Linked DNA regions of Homo sapiens: region 2 is linked to region 1. The links come from fine-mapping of genetic effects on gene expression. Tissue or cell type: lung. Region 1 holds a variant in brackets; the other region holds the start of a gene. All regions are shown on one strand. Distances are from middle to middle.

Region 1 (11,702 bases):
TTTCTCTGCAACATGCTGAAAACCCAAGTTATACCTGCTCAGACACTTCTCACATCTTTCCCCAAAACTTGGAAGCACCCGAGATGCTTCCTGGTCTCTAAGGCATTAAGGAAGCCATTGACAAATAGCTGGGAAACCACTAAGTCAGACAGGTGTGGGTTCCAGTCTCAGCTTTGCATTTACTTTTTCTAGGAACTTGAGAAACTTAACTACCCTGATTGATGGTGTCTTTTTATTGTAAAGATAATAAGAGATAATGGCCATAAAACATTAGTACATTACCTGAATAACAGTATAGATGCTCAGTAAATATCTTTGTTGGAAGAAAATTAGAAGTTAACATTGAGCTCTTCCTAATAAATTAAATTGATGAGGTTTGAAAATTACTTAAATAGTAAGCTTGTATTTAAAAGATCCTTTGACCACATAAAATTTCATTTGGAAAGAACTGCAGGTTTTTCATATCATCTCTATTTTTAGAGTGGAGATGAGAAGAAAAAAAAACACAAGAAAAAAGCACATGGCTAGGACCACTCATTATGATTCAGAAACATGAGTTAGAAAGTGCAGCTGTCTCCCTGCTTTCAGAGCAGATAGCGGCATCATTTTATAAATGAAAGTAGAGATAAAGTCACTGTGATACACATTTCTGCAATAACAAACCAGGGAACATTAGAGACAAATAAATACTCATTGCCAGGGGAATATTTTCTCCTGGGTAAAAGGCATGCATTAATTCTCACAATAGAGTCATCTAATAAATGATTCATCTAGACACTAATATTTAATCAGTTCTTATCTTCAATTGCTCTAAGAACCTTTTAAACACTATAGCATATTTAAACATATTCAGGGTTATTACTTATTCAAGTTTAATTCCTTAGTCAAACTTGTTTTAAAATGAATAAATGACACAAAAGAAAAGAATACTATCGCTTCATACTAAATGCTAATGTTGTAATTATTTTCTTTAGATAAGTAGATTTTTACCTGTAATGTTTTAACTTAGAATTTTTCTGACAATTTTAAAAGTTAATAGGAACTATTTGTTAAGCCATGCAGTTTGCTCTGCGGTTACTTACAAAATGGATTTCAATTTTTCTGTGGAATTGCTTTTTAATTTTTTACAGCACTGCAATGTTTTACCTACTTAATTTCATAATGTGAGTCATCAATAATATATTTCCTACATTCAGTGAAACCAAGTGTGATGCCAGATTGAAAAAATAATGAATTTTCTTTACATTTAGGATTTCTTTTCACATATATGACAATCCTTAGATAAATAAAAATGCTGTCCTGGATTATTATACTTTTCCACAAGAGGGCTCTTGAAAGTCAAAAATATTGCCCATGATTAGTAATCTGCTTACATCTATTGGTAAAAACCAGAGAAACAAGATTTTGAAATATTTCCTGGATAATTAAATTTTTAAAAAATACTTTAAATTAAAGAGTTAACTAATAGTAATCAAAGCCAAAATCGATGGAATGCTTCCTGTGTGCAGGCCATGTGGTTAGTGCTGGATATGTAGCCATTATTATTATTCATTGCACTATAGAGAGTCAGTTACGGTTCAGCATGAAACTTTGGAGATAAGATTGCCTGAGTTTGAATCCCAGCTCTGCCATTTGAATTATTTCTTTGACTTTGGGCAAGATACTTGGTATTTAACTTTATCAGTCCTTGGTTCCTTTTCTGTAAAATGCGGTTGTTGTAAGGATTAAGGGAATTAAGATACATAAAGCAATTAGAAGAGTGTCGGGCACCTAGTAAGTGCTTTGTAAGTTTTAGCTACTACTATCATCACAGAGGACAAAACTGAGGCACATAGAGATTAAAAGATATGCCCTAAATCGTGCGCCCAGTGTCTGGAAAGATACAAGGTTTTGCCCCACCAGTGTGCTAGAACATGTATTAGCCAATATGCCTCTAATATAAGAGAAGATTGGCAACACCATCTGCTTATTCCTACCCCCACTGACAGCACTGGGGGACCCATCCCTGCTTAACCACACTGCCCACCTGTCCACGGTCCTGGATTATCCATACCTCTCAGGGTTATCTCTCATCGTAATAATCATTGATTTATGTATTGAACTCCGTCACGAGTCTACTTGAGTTCCAGGACGATATCTTATTTATTTTTGCTTTCCTAGCACATTTTGGTTAGCAAGAATTAACAAGGATGATTTAAAAAAAATAAGGGTGTGCTAATATTTCCAACTGTCCTATAAAACGATTTTTGTTAAACCCATTTAACAGATGAAGAAATCGAAATTCTAAGATCAAGATCTCACGGTTTGAAATAGCCATACTATTGGAAACCAGATCTGAATCTGAAGCCTGTGTTTTCTTCACTATAATGACCCACACATGTGCTCAGGGTTGTTTGTGCATTTACTGACTGAAGACAGACTGTGAAAATTCCACCAAGAGACATAACGGAGTGTTTTCAATGTATATATAGGCTAAGGGGAGATTATTTTTGCAATAACTCAAGTATTCAAATGAGGATTTTTCCCTTCAAATAGTTTTGGTCTGTGTTTTTTTTTAAATAAGGTTAAATTTTTTTCAGATTGATTTTATAACTTCTCTTTTATAATTATTTTTGTGGAAAAATTTAAAAATGTTATGAACACTAAGAATAACAATATTATACAATGAAAGTGTATAATAAGGAGAATTTCCTGGTCAGGGACTGGGTTAAAACTTCCTTCAAAGGGAGATATCTGAACTGAGAACCAGAGGATGAGTCCGTGTTAACCAGGTGAAAAAGGGAAGGAAAGAATGTTATTCCAGGCAGACGAAACCATTTGCAAAGGCCCTGTAGCAGGGGACACCATCCTAATGAGGAGGAATAAAAAGAATAAAGGTAACGGGAAGCAGAATGGTTCAGGAGGGGCTGAAAAGTAAAAGGCAGACAATTCATTAATTTTGTAAATATTTATGGGAAGCCTACCACACCCCTGCTAGTAATGTAGGTACAGAGGAATAAAAAAGTAATAAAGCATTTTTCTCTCAAGGAAATTCTTAATCTGGCAAAAGATGGCTAAACGCACACACACGCTTACCTCTAGATATAATGCAATGGAAGCGGTATTGTAATAGCAGTAAGAACAAAAGGCTGTGGGAGCACAATAGAAGGAGAAATTAATTGTGATTAAGGAAATATCAAAAGAAGGAATTGGCCAATATTTTATTGGGTAATTGACATGTTAGCTGATCCTTAAAGGTATTCCAAGCAACAGCATGAAGAGAAGCACCAGGTGTAAATAGTGGCCAGAAGTCTATTAAATAATAATTTGTTTGATGGATCTGTTTATTTTAAATCTCAGAGGAGGTTCTATTCTCTGCAGAAAGTAGAATTAAACTAGAAAGCAGTAACAAAAAGATAAACAGAAAAAAACCTTAATAATTGCTATCATGTATATAGGTGTTAAAACACGGTTGCGAAAACAAGTAATCACAATGAAAATTAGAAAATGTTTGGAAATAAATGTTTGGAAATAAATGATAACATGGTTGACATATCAAAATACATAACTAAAGTTATGCTTAGGTAAAATGTGCAGGCTTATGTGCATATGTTAGAAAAGAATATTGAATATCAACACTCTACATATCTATCTGAAGAAGCAATGAGAAAAGCAAATTAATCCAACGAAAGTTGAAGAAAAAGATGACACAGGCAGAAGCCCAATGAAGAGAAAACAAACATAAAATTAATAAAGAAGACCAAAAGTTGGTCCTTCAAAAATAAAACACAATTTATAAACCCCAAGGTCAAGAAAAAAAGAGAAGTCAAAAAAGTCAGAAATAAAAGCCAGGATATTACTTTAGATTTTATAATTGTTAAAATATAATAGAAAGATATAAACAATGTTATGTCCGTAATTTCAATATTTAAATGAAATAAGCAAATACCATTAAAATATTATTTTTTAAATAACGAAATAAGGATGGGAAATCGGAATTGTTCTATATCTTAAGGAAAAAAAGAAATGAAGAATCTCTTTATAGAGGTAGTTATACTCTTCTTTCTGCTTCCTACTAGCCAAAAGGTAACAATGTTTACTATCTCTCAGCATTTCTCAATTGCCGCCACTAGGTGGCAAACGTTTCCAAACTATTGCAGGAGCCTGCAGTGACTATCAGAGTTTGTTGGACACCATTTTGTGTGCTCCCCAACAATCACAAATAGAATATTCTAAAATGGTCTCATTATTGTCATTATAAGCACTCTCACTGTTTTCATGAAACAAAAGATAGCAGCAGGAACAAAACTGCACTGAAAAAAATCTAAACACAGGTTTTATTGCAAGAAATTGAAAACCTACTCTAACAATAGAACCTTCCACTTCAGGCTCAGAACAAGGCCAGCGAAGTGGAGCAGGCCTATCACAGATTCCCATCTCCATGACAACCTTTTCAGTTCCATGCACAATTAAAGCTACAGTATCAGTTTTTTTCAGGAAAAAAAAAATCTGAGTCCTGGCTAGTATTCATTTTTTATAATAGATTTGAGAAATTAAATTGATTCTAATTAGTGCAGCTGACTTAGTGGGTAATAATAATTCATTATACAAGCAGCCCTAACTCTCTTCTCCAAAAGCAAATGAAAATATATATTTTGTATGGTTTAATGTACTATCATTATCACTATCCTTTTTAGCTTTCTTTGACAACAGCTCTTTTGTGCCAGGCATTCTCGAAAATCCTGGCTTAATTCCCCTTCAGG[C/T]TATACTTGTGGATAAAAAAAAAATCTGTTCATTTCATTAGCAATTAGATTTCAGCCAGATGGTCTGGAAAGTGTTGGGACTCCCTCAGAATCCTGGAATAACCTTTTCTCCAGATACATGCTTCCTTTCGTCTTCTGAAGACATTTCTGGAGTTTTTAGTTGTTACTGAAAAAATGGGTAGAGCTCAGATTTCTGCTGCCCTGAAAGAGATTGTTCAGAAATTTTGAAGAGTTAAAATATATATATTCAAAGTGTTAAAAAAATGCAACTTGTAAAGAAAATTTAGTGGATCAAGAGTTTAGCGTATGGAGAACAAATGATTGGTGGAGGAATTTATGACAATAACATTTTCAAGTACCATATATGAAGATATTTAAAAATAGAGTGACCAGCTATATTTTTCCTTTTTAAAAAATTAATAAAGATATAAAAATGGGATGTGAGTTTTCATGTTATTTCATATAAGCAATAACATGAAAGACTAGTTGAGTTTAAGACATTTCTGAGATTCCTAAGAATGGAATCAAGGTGGTAAAACATTACCAAGAGTTATCATAGAATACTATGCCATGAAAATCATAAACATGTATTTTTTTTCTTCTTCCTAGAAATGTGCAAGTATAACTTTTCCTGAAATCAGACGACTGAGGCAGGTGACTCTTCATGAACCCTTTCATTACTAGCATCTTGTGATTTTTATAGGCATGAAATGTAGATACTATGGCACTGTTGCTTCATTCATTTTAACCATCTCTAACACCCTATGATGATGACCGGGAGAAATAAAGCAGCCAGTTTGCAATCCAGCTTACTTGTGGATAGATGTTGTCATTGCTTGAAGAAAGTATGATTACTACTACCTTTTTGCGTGGTCAAATTGAGACAAAGAAAAGTTAAGTGTCTTCCCCAGCACTAAGTCCAAGAGAGATGACATATGTTTTATGTCTGTCCAGCATGCCTTTGGTCAACCTCATTTACTTCATTCTTGCCTGGAAATGAATGGGGCTGGCTCAACAGTGGACATAAAACGGATGCCTAGACAAAGAGAAAGCTCTATCTCCTTGCCAAATGTTACATTGAGGAATGGGCATGGGTCATAGCTTTGCCAAAGAAAATTGTTTCCTCCCAGAGAACTCTGAAGCTATTGAGAAAGACATAATTTCTTTTTTTCTTTTTCTTTTCTTTTCTTTCTTTCTTTCTTTTTTTTTTTTTTTTTTTTTTTTTTTTTTTTTACTGAATCTTGCTCTATTGCCTGGCCTGGAGTGCAATGGTGCAATCTCGGCTCACTGCAACCTCTGCCTCCCGGGTTCAAGTGATTCTCCTGCCTCAGCCCAGCCTCCCGAGTAGCTGGGACTACAGAAGCGTGCCACCACGCCCGGCTGATTTTTTATTTATTTTTTATTTTTTATTTTTAGGAGAGACGAGGTTTCACCATGTTGGCCAGGTTGGTCTCAAACACCTGACCTCAGGTGATCCACCCGCCTCAGCCTCCCAAAGTGCTGGGATTACAGGCATGAGCCACCACACCTGGCCAGAGATAATTTCTTTTTGCTTGTAGGGCAAACATAAACCTGAAGTTATTGTCATCTTATAGGGAGAGCTTTTCAAAATGAAGCCAACACAGGTAAAGGGAAGAAAATATAGCTTACACAAACAATGTTTAACATATAGATTTAACACATGGAGACATAGAGGCCTGGTTAGATTTTTAACTGTAAGGTCGAGCAAGAGAAAATACCTCTAATGTTATTGTATAAGCTCCTTATAGCTAGAACCTGACAAACTCATCCAGATCTTTGTAAGTTGTAAGCATGGGATTTAAAAAATGTTAATTTTGCTTTTTAAATTATCATATAGTCACAGACTTTCTTGTACAGGTCTTTGAATTTTGATACTTTTATAGATTCAAATAACTACCACCATTATCAGGATATGAAAAGAGTTCCTTCTATCACCTCAGACTCCCTGGTGTCATTTCTTTATAATCACAGCACTCCATTCCCCTAATCTTTGGCAACCACTGATCTCCTGTCCATTTCTTTTATCTTTCTGGGAATTTCATATAAATGGAATCATGTGATATGCAACCTTTTGAGACTAACTTCTTTTTCCCATTATAATGCACTTGAAATTAATTCAAATTCTGATCTGAATCAATAGTTTGTTCTTTTTTATTGCTGAGTAGTGTTTCATTGTACTGAGGTATCATAGTTTCTTCCTCCATTACTCACTGAAGGACTTTTGCACTGTCTCCAGTTTTGGGAATATATTATGAAGAGAGCTACTATATTAACATCTGCGTGGAGGTTTTTGTTTGAACGAAAGCTTTCTTTTCCCAAAAAATCAGAGTTGCTGAGTCATAACTACATGTTTAACTTGATGAGAAACTGTCAAACCATTTTATGTAATAGCTGTACCATTTTTCACTACCACCAGCAATGTATGAGAGTTTTAGTTGCTCTACATCCTCGTCAGCACTTGGTGTTGTCAGTATTTTTTATTTTCTGCATTCTAATAAGTGTGCAGTGGTATTTCATTAATGCTTAACTTTGCATTTCACTTATGGCTAATGATGTTGAACATTTTTAATATGCTGCTTTGCCATCCTTATAACCTTCTTGGTAAGTGTCCAAGCTTTTGCCCATTTTAAAAATTGATTTCTATGTTTCCTTACTGTTGCATATTGAGTTTTTTGGGTTTTTTGGTTTTGTTTTGTTTTGTTTTTGATGGAGTTTCACTCTGTTGCCCAGGCTGGAGTGCAGCGGCACAATCTCAGCTCACTGCAACCTCCGCCGCCCAGGTTCAAGCGATTCTCCTGCCTCATCTCCCAAGTAGCTGAGATTACAGATGCCCACCACCATACCTGGCTAATTGTTTTATATTTTTAGTAGACATGGGGTTTCTCCATGTTGGCCCGGCTGGTTTTGAACTCCTGACCTCAAGTGATCTGCCCACCTCAACCTCCCAAAGGGCTAGGATTACAGGCATGAGCCACTGCATCTGGCCTGAGTTTTATATATATTTTGGATGAGAAATTTATAAAGGAAAGAGGTTTAATTGATTCACAGTTCCACATGGTTGGGGAGGCCTCACAATTATGGCAAAGGAGAATGAGCAAAGTCACATCTTACATGGTGATAAGCAAGAGAGCATGTGCAGGGGAACTCCCCTTTATAAAACTATCAGATCTCATGAGATTTATTCACTATCATGAGAACAGCATGGGAAAAACCTGTCCCCATGATTCCATTATCTCCCACTGGGTCCCTCCCATGGCACATGGAAATTATGGGAGCTACAATTTAAGATGAGATTTGGGTGGGGACACAGCCAAACCATATCAACATGTATATTTGGTCAACTTATCAAACAGACCTTTGGAAACCTAACTATTTAAAGGACTAAGGAACTTCCAAGAGAAGCTAATTCTAAAACACAGGACAGGTAGACACACACATCTAGTAACAGATTTCTGAATTTGAGTAGGGGAAGATTTTTGAGTACAACATACTGTCACTCAGAATTGTTTCTGATACTGTCCTTGTTTGAATTCTGGAGAAGGCAGAAAGTCAAAAGTAAAAGATATATTTCACTCAAATATACCTGATTTTATCTTTAATGGAAAAAAAAATGAGAGTACCTTTTCCCCCCAATTTATTGTAGAGTGCCAGAATCTATTTGCCCTGCATTTGCCCAGTGCATCACCAGCAGCACCCAGTGGAATAGGCAATAGTATTTAGCTGAGATGGCCCTGCTGATTCCCAGGAAAGCAAGCAGTAGTGGTGCCCCTTTGCGGTGGCAAAGTTTGGAGAAGACTGTTGTCCTCAAGAGTAGAAATGGTTATCATGCCTATTGTAAATGACATCTCATGGAAGTGAAAGCAATATGTGACAGCTGCCAACTAAAGCAACTGCCCAGTGGAAAGGCCAAGAAAACAGAAGGCAGGAAGGAGAAAAACATGGCCAAAAGCACAATTGCTCCTAGGATTATTCTGAGAGCTTGGGAGACACAGGGTCCTAGTTTATCATGTCAGTGCAAGGGCCAGTGAATCATAGGTTACTTGTTGACATTGAATTTGGTGCCTATTTTAGTCACTAATTGCATTGTAATAAGCTGTACATTTGAATAGCTTGTTTCTTTTTAAGTAGTTTAAAGAATAATAAACCAATGGAAGCTGCAGCTTACGACTAATATCTCGGAGTTGATCTTGCCTTTCAAAAGGCCTGTGCCATTTATATGCTTTTAAAAATATGATTTCCCAGGCTCTACTCAGGAACTTCTGTTTCAGTCACTCCAAAGTGCAGCCCATATGTCTGTATTTTTAACAAGCTCCACAGAGTATTCTGATCCAGAACAAGACTTGAAGACTTGAAAACTCTGCTTTGAAATTCGATAAAGAAAATGAAACAGCTTATATGATGATGAAATAACATAGAATTCAAGAAGCATTCAATTTTAGTAACTACTTTTGGAGTACTTTAAGTTAACTTTAAAGATACATTCACAAGTCCTGCAGGTGAACTTGTGTTTTTTTCTGTAGACCTGAAACCCATGCAGATAGAAAGGATTTGAGTTGGACTATGGGGATTCTGTAATGGGCCACCCAGATCCCCAGTTCAGGAAGGGAGAGTTTACTCCCCCAGCTGCTGGTAGTATGGCCAGGGAATGACCCTCAACTGCCACCCCACTTCAGTGATTGCCTTTGTTGCAGAAAAATGTCTCACCATAAGTTACACACTCTTTCTAGCATGGCTTACATTTAATGACTGCTGAATGTCAGGGGAAAACATCTCCTGCCCCAAATTAGAACAGACCTCTAAGGCCATTCCAGCTTCCAGGCTGTCTTTCAGGTCAGCTGAGGTCTTCATTGAGATTGCATTACATCTCAACTTCTCCTTCTATCCAATCCTGCTGTCTTCCCTTCCCTTCACAGAAGTTGATCCCAACAACACACCTGAGCAAATGTTCTGCATGCCAATCATCATCTCAGAGTTTGCTTCCTAAGCAACTCAGCCTGTGTCAACCCCTTAGCTTGCAAATGGTCAAAACCAAACTAGCTTAAAGTAAGGGAGAAATTCATCACAAGGATACTGGGCTATCTCAGGTTGAACTATGAAGAGTGGACAGAGCAGAGATGCAACCCAGCTTAGAAACAACTAAAATGACAGAGTGAAGACTGCCAGATCACTCTCTCATGTCCTCACATTCTCTTATGCTCTCTTCTCTTTCACTTGCTTTTTCTGTAATCCAGCTTCTCTTTTCCTACCTGGTTTATTCTCTCACTGTGGATGGGCTACTTCTACTGGATGAGAAATGTAGCTATTATATTATACATTTTCATATTTCTACAGTCAAAGAAGAACTATGTCTATTTTCTAATCTAGTTCATAAATTTTTAAGGAATATTCTGTTTGTCCAGACTTGGGTCAGTTTCCAAGGTCTGGACCAATCACTTGTTGTTAGGAGGCAGGGACAGGTAATATACCAACTTTCCCTGAAATCACATTGGGAGAGGAAGGAGATAATGTCCCTAAGAAGAAGGCTTTTCAATGCAGAAGGGTTTAAGAAATGGTGTGTGTAGGAGTGTATAAAACATATATAAGACTTGCTCTGAGTGGAAGTCTCTACAATATCTCCCCGCACACACACACACAACTATATATTATTATAATAACATACAACAATATGCTTTGTCTGAATGCTTTCCAGTTCAAAAACATCTTACTTGCCTCATTTTTATCTTTACAAGATATTTAAATATATAAGAAAATTAGTCGTAAATTATATTATTGAAAATTTCATGCCCATTATGAGTTAGATCTGGAATTCAAGCCTGATCTTCTGATTTCAAGTCTAAGTCCAAAAGTTGTCCACTTTTGCACCTACTTACTTATGATTTTTTCTTTTTTGAGTTTTAATTTCTGTGGGCACATAGTAGGTGTATATACTTATTTACATATTTTTTTCTAAAAACATATGAATCCTACTTGGTCCCCCATTAAAGTAAGACACAGTTATCTTTTCCTGAGGTGAGTATATAATGCAACCAAATGATTTCCAATTGTTTATCGGCCATTTTAGGTGGGTGTGCTTCTTGATGTCTATATTAAAGCCTTGTCAAATAGCCGATTGCTTATAATACCCATTCGTGGGCACACAGGTCGCTCTTCCACCAGCTTCCAAAACAAAACAAAAGACCAAAAAACCATCTTGCCAGAAATTCTCACCTGCAAATTATGCTTCTTAATGATCAATCTGCCAGTTAGAATGGCGATCATTAAAAAGTCAGGAAACAACAGATGCTGGAGAGGATGTGGAGAAATAGGAATGCTTTTACGCTGTTGGTGGGAGTGTAAATGAGTTCAACCATTGTGGAAGACAGTGTGGTGATTTCTCAAGGATCTAGAACCAGAAATACCATTTGACCCAGCAATCTCATTACTGGGTATATACTCAAAGGATTATAAATCATTCTACTATAAATACATGCACACGTATGTTTATTGTGGCACTGTTCACAATAGCAAAGACTTGGAACCAACCCAAATGCCCATCAATTGTAGACTGGATAAAGAAAATGTGGCACATATACACCATGGAATACTATGCAGCCATAAAAAGGATGAGTTTATGTCCTTTTCAGGGACATGTGTGTAGCTGAAAATCGTCATTCTCAGCAAACTAACACAAGAACAGAAAACCAGACACCACATGTTCTCATTCATAAGTGGGAGTTGAACAATGAGAACACGTGGACACAGAAAGAGGAACATCACACACTGAAGCCTATCAGGGGGTGGGGGGCTAGGGGAGGGAAAGTATTGGGAGAAATACCTAATAGAGATGACGGGTTGATGGGTGCAGCAAACCACCATGGCACGTGTATACCATGTAACAAACCTGCACTTTCTGCACATGTATCCCAGAACTTAAAGTATAATAATAAAAAAATGCATTAT
Region 2 (5,000 bases), 82 kb after region 1:
TATCACATACCTTCAGGTTTTTTTGCTATTGAAATTAGGTGGGTATAGGTTTAGTCTTATATTTCACCTCTTCTCAAATAAAAACACTGAGTTTCCAGGATGATAACATCTCTCTTAAGTTTAATATGTTCTAGCTTATTTTTTACCTCACCAAAAATTGTAAATTTTCTTGAGGTACCAAGAAGGTTGAAAAAAGAAAGGGCTCCAGTACCCACCCCCTCCACAAGACAAAGTAACATTGGTAGTAATGAAAAGTATAACTACTGATTAATGTAATAGTTAAACAGAATCAACAAGCACTTAATGAACATATACTATGTGAAAAACTATGCTATACGGTTATATAAGCATCACTTAATTTTATTGTTCCATTTATTTCTTCACTATGTACTGACAACCTACTCTTTGCCAGGCACACTTGTAGTTACCAGAAAACATAATAATGAAAATGTGCTTGACTTTACAGAGTTCACTAGTGGGTGAGGCAGACAAGATAAAAAAGGACACAGAAATACTTGATATACTATCAAATGGTGACAAATTCTATGAAGGAAAATAAAATAGTATAAAAGAATAAAGAGTAACAGAGGTCTGAGATTATGAATCTACTCGGTGCATCAAACACAACTTCCCTGAGGAGTTAAAATTTGTGCAGAGATATGAATTAAATGAGGGGTTAAGCCATGCAATTTTGGCGGAACAGAGTTCTTGGACAAAGGAACAGTAAGTACAAAGCTCCTGAGGCAGTGAAAGGCTAGGCTGGAACGGCCAGACCATTGAGGTGCAAAGTGATGTGAATGAGGTCCTAGAACCAGGCAAGGTGGCCAGGCAGGGCTTTAAGGAAGAGACGGGAAGTTTGGACTTTCCATTGAAGTGGAAGAGAGCTCTTGGAGGGTTTGGGTAGGGGAATAAAACAATTGGGTTTACTTTCCAAAGGACCTTTCTGGCTGCTGCGTAGGGAATGGTTTGTAGGTTGTGGGAATGGCAAATGCAAAAGCTGGTAGAACAGTTAGAAGGCCGTTAGGTTATTCCAGTCTAGGCAAGAGATGGCGGTCGCTGTGTGTGGTGGGGGGTGAGGGCAAGCACTGAGTTTAGGAAGAAGATGTAGTTCTCTTCTGATTACTTCTATTTTCTAAGTGAAATAAGAGTTAATGTCATGAACTGAGAATGAGGAGATTTGAGAAGTGAGAAGTTGTGAATGGGAAAATGGCTGGACAGAAAAAATTATAGAATCGTGGGGGCAACTCCAGGACCTACTTGGAGTTTGTGGTCATGAGTTGGATGTGAGACAGCATCATGCGGTTGTGTGTTTTTCTCCAGCCACTTTCAGTTGCTCTGGTAAGGGCAGAGAATTGGGTTCAACTAAGCCGGGATATTATCAGGTGAGTATGGCAAATTGGGAGGCGGAAACAAGCAATTATATTGCTAGACTTTGGAACCCAAGCCTGGCAGAAGAAAGTGGGGGCAAGAGGTGGTGTTGGCAGTGAAATGAGTATATTATTAGATAGGATGGTCCCATACTGCCAAAGACCTATTGGAGGAGCAACTAAAAAAGGGAAATGGATAAATGAGTTGGGAATTGGCCATCACATGCTTGAAATGGAGACTTGGAGATATTGGAAATGGCCTGGGACATGTGATCACAAAATTAGGTCATCTTTATTAGTATAATATCATGTCTCGTGTTTGCTGGGTCTTTCTCTCTTCTATATCAACTTGATACTTCTGGTTGCCAAAGTAATCACAAAATTGAGACTAGCCATGTATACTGCCAACAAGATGAAGGACTTTAGATTATTAATATCTGAAGACATACTTCTTTTTACTGTTATGATTGCAATACTGACACTGTTCTGGGGGTGTGACAGTGAGATTAGAACATACAGTAGCCTCTGGGCTCAATGAGGATGCCCATTACCTGTGCATTCACACATCTGCCTCTCTGGATGCAAGGAACCCACATCATTCCCACACAACCGGTAGTGTTTGTTAGTGGGTGCTTCGATATGGAAGGGAGATAAGGAGTCTCCTAGGCAGAGAATCCCCCGTAGGAGCTGTCATTCCTGGGTAGCAACAAGCTGTCAGTTAATGCCTACCTCAGCCTACTTTTCAGTATGGGATCCAAGATCTCATTTCGTGGAGGTAGGGGTTGGTTTTCTTGCTATGGGTCAGCGCGCTGGAGCAGGGCTTCTGATCCTTAGCATTCTTTAATAGCATTCCTAGAGTGACCTAGGAGGCTCCCCAGGAGGAGACTAGGTGGCTTAGCTCCTCAGCCTAACTACTGCAGAAACCAGGAGTGCGTCCTCCTTTTCGGATTCTTGACGTCAAGCTCCGACAGCCTTGGAGCGTCGCAAGGGCGGTAGAGAGCTGAGGGAGGGTGACAGGGAGGGGAAGCCATTGCAGCAACAGCTTGGAGGAGGGAGCTGGACGTCGTCTCTCGCCAGAAAAACGGGGAGCAGGAGCCAGACTAGGGGAGGAAGAGGACTGGCCCGCTCAGGGAATAGCTGGGTTGCTGCAAAAAGGGGCGGGGAGAAGGCGGGGGCGCTGCATGCAGCGCGCTGGCTCCAGCGGTGGCCGCGGGGAATGTGACATCAGCGGCGCCGGGCGCTTGGGGCTGGAGGAGGCAGCTCGCCTCAGCTGCGCTGTGCACACCTCGCCCGGGGGAGGACGCAGACCCGGGCAGGCGGCAGGGATGTCGGCGAAGGAGAGGCCAAAGGGCAAAGTGATCAAGGACAGCGTCACCCTCCTGCCCTGCTTTTATTTCGTCGAGGTGAGTTGGCCCAGTGCCTTGGCATAATGCAGATCCTCTGGGCATCTCCTGAGCGAATTCAGGTCCTGGACAGTGTTGGAGGCGCAGAGATCCTGCCGGGCGCGCGCGGCTGTCCCCAAATGCCCGACCCTCCCCTCTTCCCCTAGATTTCACAGCAGCTCCCCGAATGTGCCTGTGAATACCTGTCAGCCCGGGGTGATTACCATTAGAGGTGTCGCTGCTGGGTGGCCTGCAGGGAACGGATACCTGTGTGAGTGAGTGTGGTTTTAGTTCCTTGGCCCTCCTGTAGTGCCTGTGTGCACAACGTCCGCTAGTGCCCCAGAGGGGCCATGATGCCCATATTTCGGGATTTGTGTCTTCAACCTGCCGAGTACGTGTCGGGAACTCCGTGTGCACACAGCTATGCCTAGGGCATATGAGGGTTGAAGGTGTTTACATAGTACAAATATTGTTAATTGCTTTTATTGCTCCTGCCCCCCCCCCCCAAATCCTTCTCCTATTATATTATTTTGGTGCTCACATACGCTTCTGAAATTGGATCTGCATCTCTAAACATCAATCATCAATGTACTGGCCTCTTTCCACAGTAAAAAATACATATTATATATGTGTGTATACATAACTATATATAATATTTTAAATCTATGACATCATCTGATTTTACATGATTTGTATCTGAGTATTTACTGTGCTGAGCAGTATTATAGATAAACAATTAAATGCAGATGTATCCGTAATGACCCTCTAACTTACCAAAATGCAGTATTTGAGGGAGAAACAATTCATAGGAGTGTTATAAAGATTGGCAGATACAGTGATTCCGTGTACTGTGCTCCATTGCATTAGGAAGACATTTTTAAGCAAGAGGTTTATTAAATTACAGATACTGAAGGGTTGTATTGCATAGATTTAGGGAAATCAGATGGTTTTAGGCACAAAACTATATTCTGTTTAGTTAGAGTCTGGGTTGCATAGAGAATTATAAGACTGTTGCTGAATCATAAATATCCTTCTCTGGCCATCTTTTCAGCCAAATATGGAGGTTTAGCCCTTCGAAGTGCAAACAGTAGATTCTGTATTCAATGATTGTAAGGCTTATCTGTCCTGAGGAATAGTCACTGCCTTGAAACTTGGGAGAAGAGACATTGTCGGACTGTTCTTATAGGTAACAATATATTTGGAAGTTTTGTAGAAGTGTCATAGATTTTTTAAATAATTTCAGTTTCAAGAAAGATGTATGTGACTTGCATAACTTTCAGAGAAATGATGGGTGACCCCTGCATTCATGAACCATAGAAAAGAAGAAAAAAAAATCTATGTATTTAAAATAATGAATCCATTTATTATCCTTTCTCTTTTCACAAGAGATTTTTGGGAACATGGTTTAGGTAATTTTTGTTGAAAGATAATAAAGAGCTTTCTCAAGAAAAATGTAGGTAGCAGAAGATTCCATGATGAAAATGGTGAAGGAATAGAAAGATGAGATACCTGCCTTCAAGTTCAATCCATCAGACCACTTGTCGCATGGCTAATCCGTGTAGTTTTGTATTATAGTGATTTCATTTGTGTCTGAATCAATGACATTTGTCTAGGAGAAATCAGTTAATGGCTGAGTTCCATCTCCAGGAAGGAACACACCTGAGGTCAGCTAGAAGCTGACTACATGTGGGTTGCAGCTATATGGCTTCAAGGAAAATGCCCTCATGAAAGAGGAGGCAAACCAGAGAATTAAGGATGTGCCTTTACAGAATGTACGTGGGCGCTTTTGAGGCATCTTTAACCGGAGTACATGTCCCTTAAGCAAGAATTTTAAAAGTACAAGTGCCTCATAATGCAATTGAATTGTGTGTTTAGGAACAGACATCTCACAATTGTTACTTCTTTTCCATGAGTGGAAATAGCCCAGATTCATTACTTTTACTTTGGCCTATTCAGATACCCTCTATGAATTCCTTAGCAGGGCAAGCTGTAGAACAATTACTTGAACACAATTCATGGAGTTTAAATGAGCATTGATGACACTGTATCTTGGGGTTAACAGACTTCAAAGACAGAGCCACACAATTGGATTGCAAATTATCTTCCTAAAAATTAAATGCATGATGAACCACTAAAGAGCCTCCAGAAAATGGGAGACTGCATTAGTATAAAAATTATTTAAGGGTTTGACCACATGCACTATCACGCTCCTTTGAAATGACTCATTTTGAAGCTGGTGAGAATGCACTAA

The links. PIP is the estimated chance that this variant, and not a neighbour inherited with it, causes the effect.
Region 2: PLPPR4 starts here. The variant in region 1 is fine-mapped to the expression of PLPPR4 in lung (TOPMed, PIP 0.98).

The regions. Positions count from the first base shown.
Region 1 is chr1:99,176,347-99,188,048 of GRCh38, forward strand. No RefSeq gene overlaps it. Among named protein-coding and RNA genes, the nearest start is that of PLPPR4, 82 kb to the right of the region's middle. RefSeq lists a silencer at 7,537-7,704. The variant C/T (reference allele first, on the strand shown) is at 4,743.
Region 2 is chr1:99,261,902-99,266,901 of GRCh38, forward strand. It overlaps PLPPR4 (phospholipid phosphatase related 4), which reads left to right and starts at 2,591. Exons shown (of 7, transcript NM_014839.5): 1 at 2,591-2,770. The coding sequence starts at 2,693.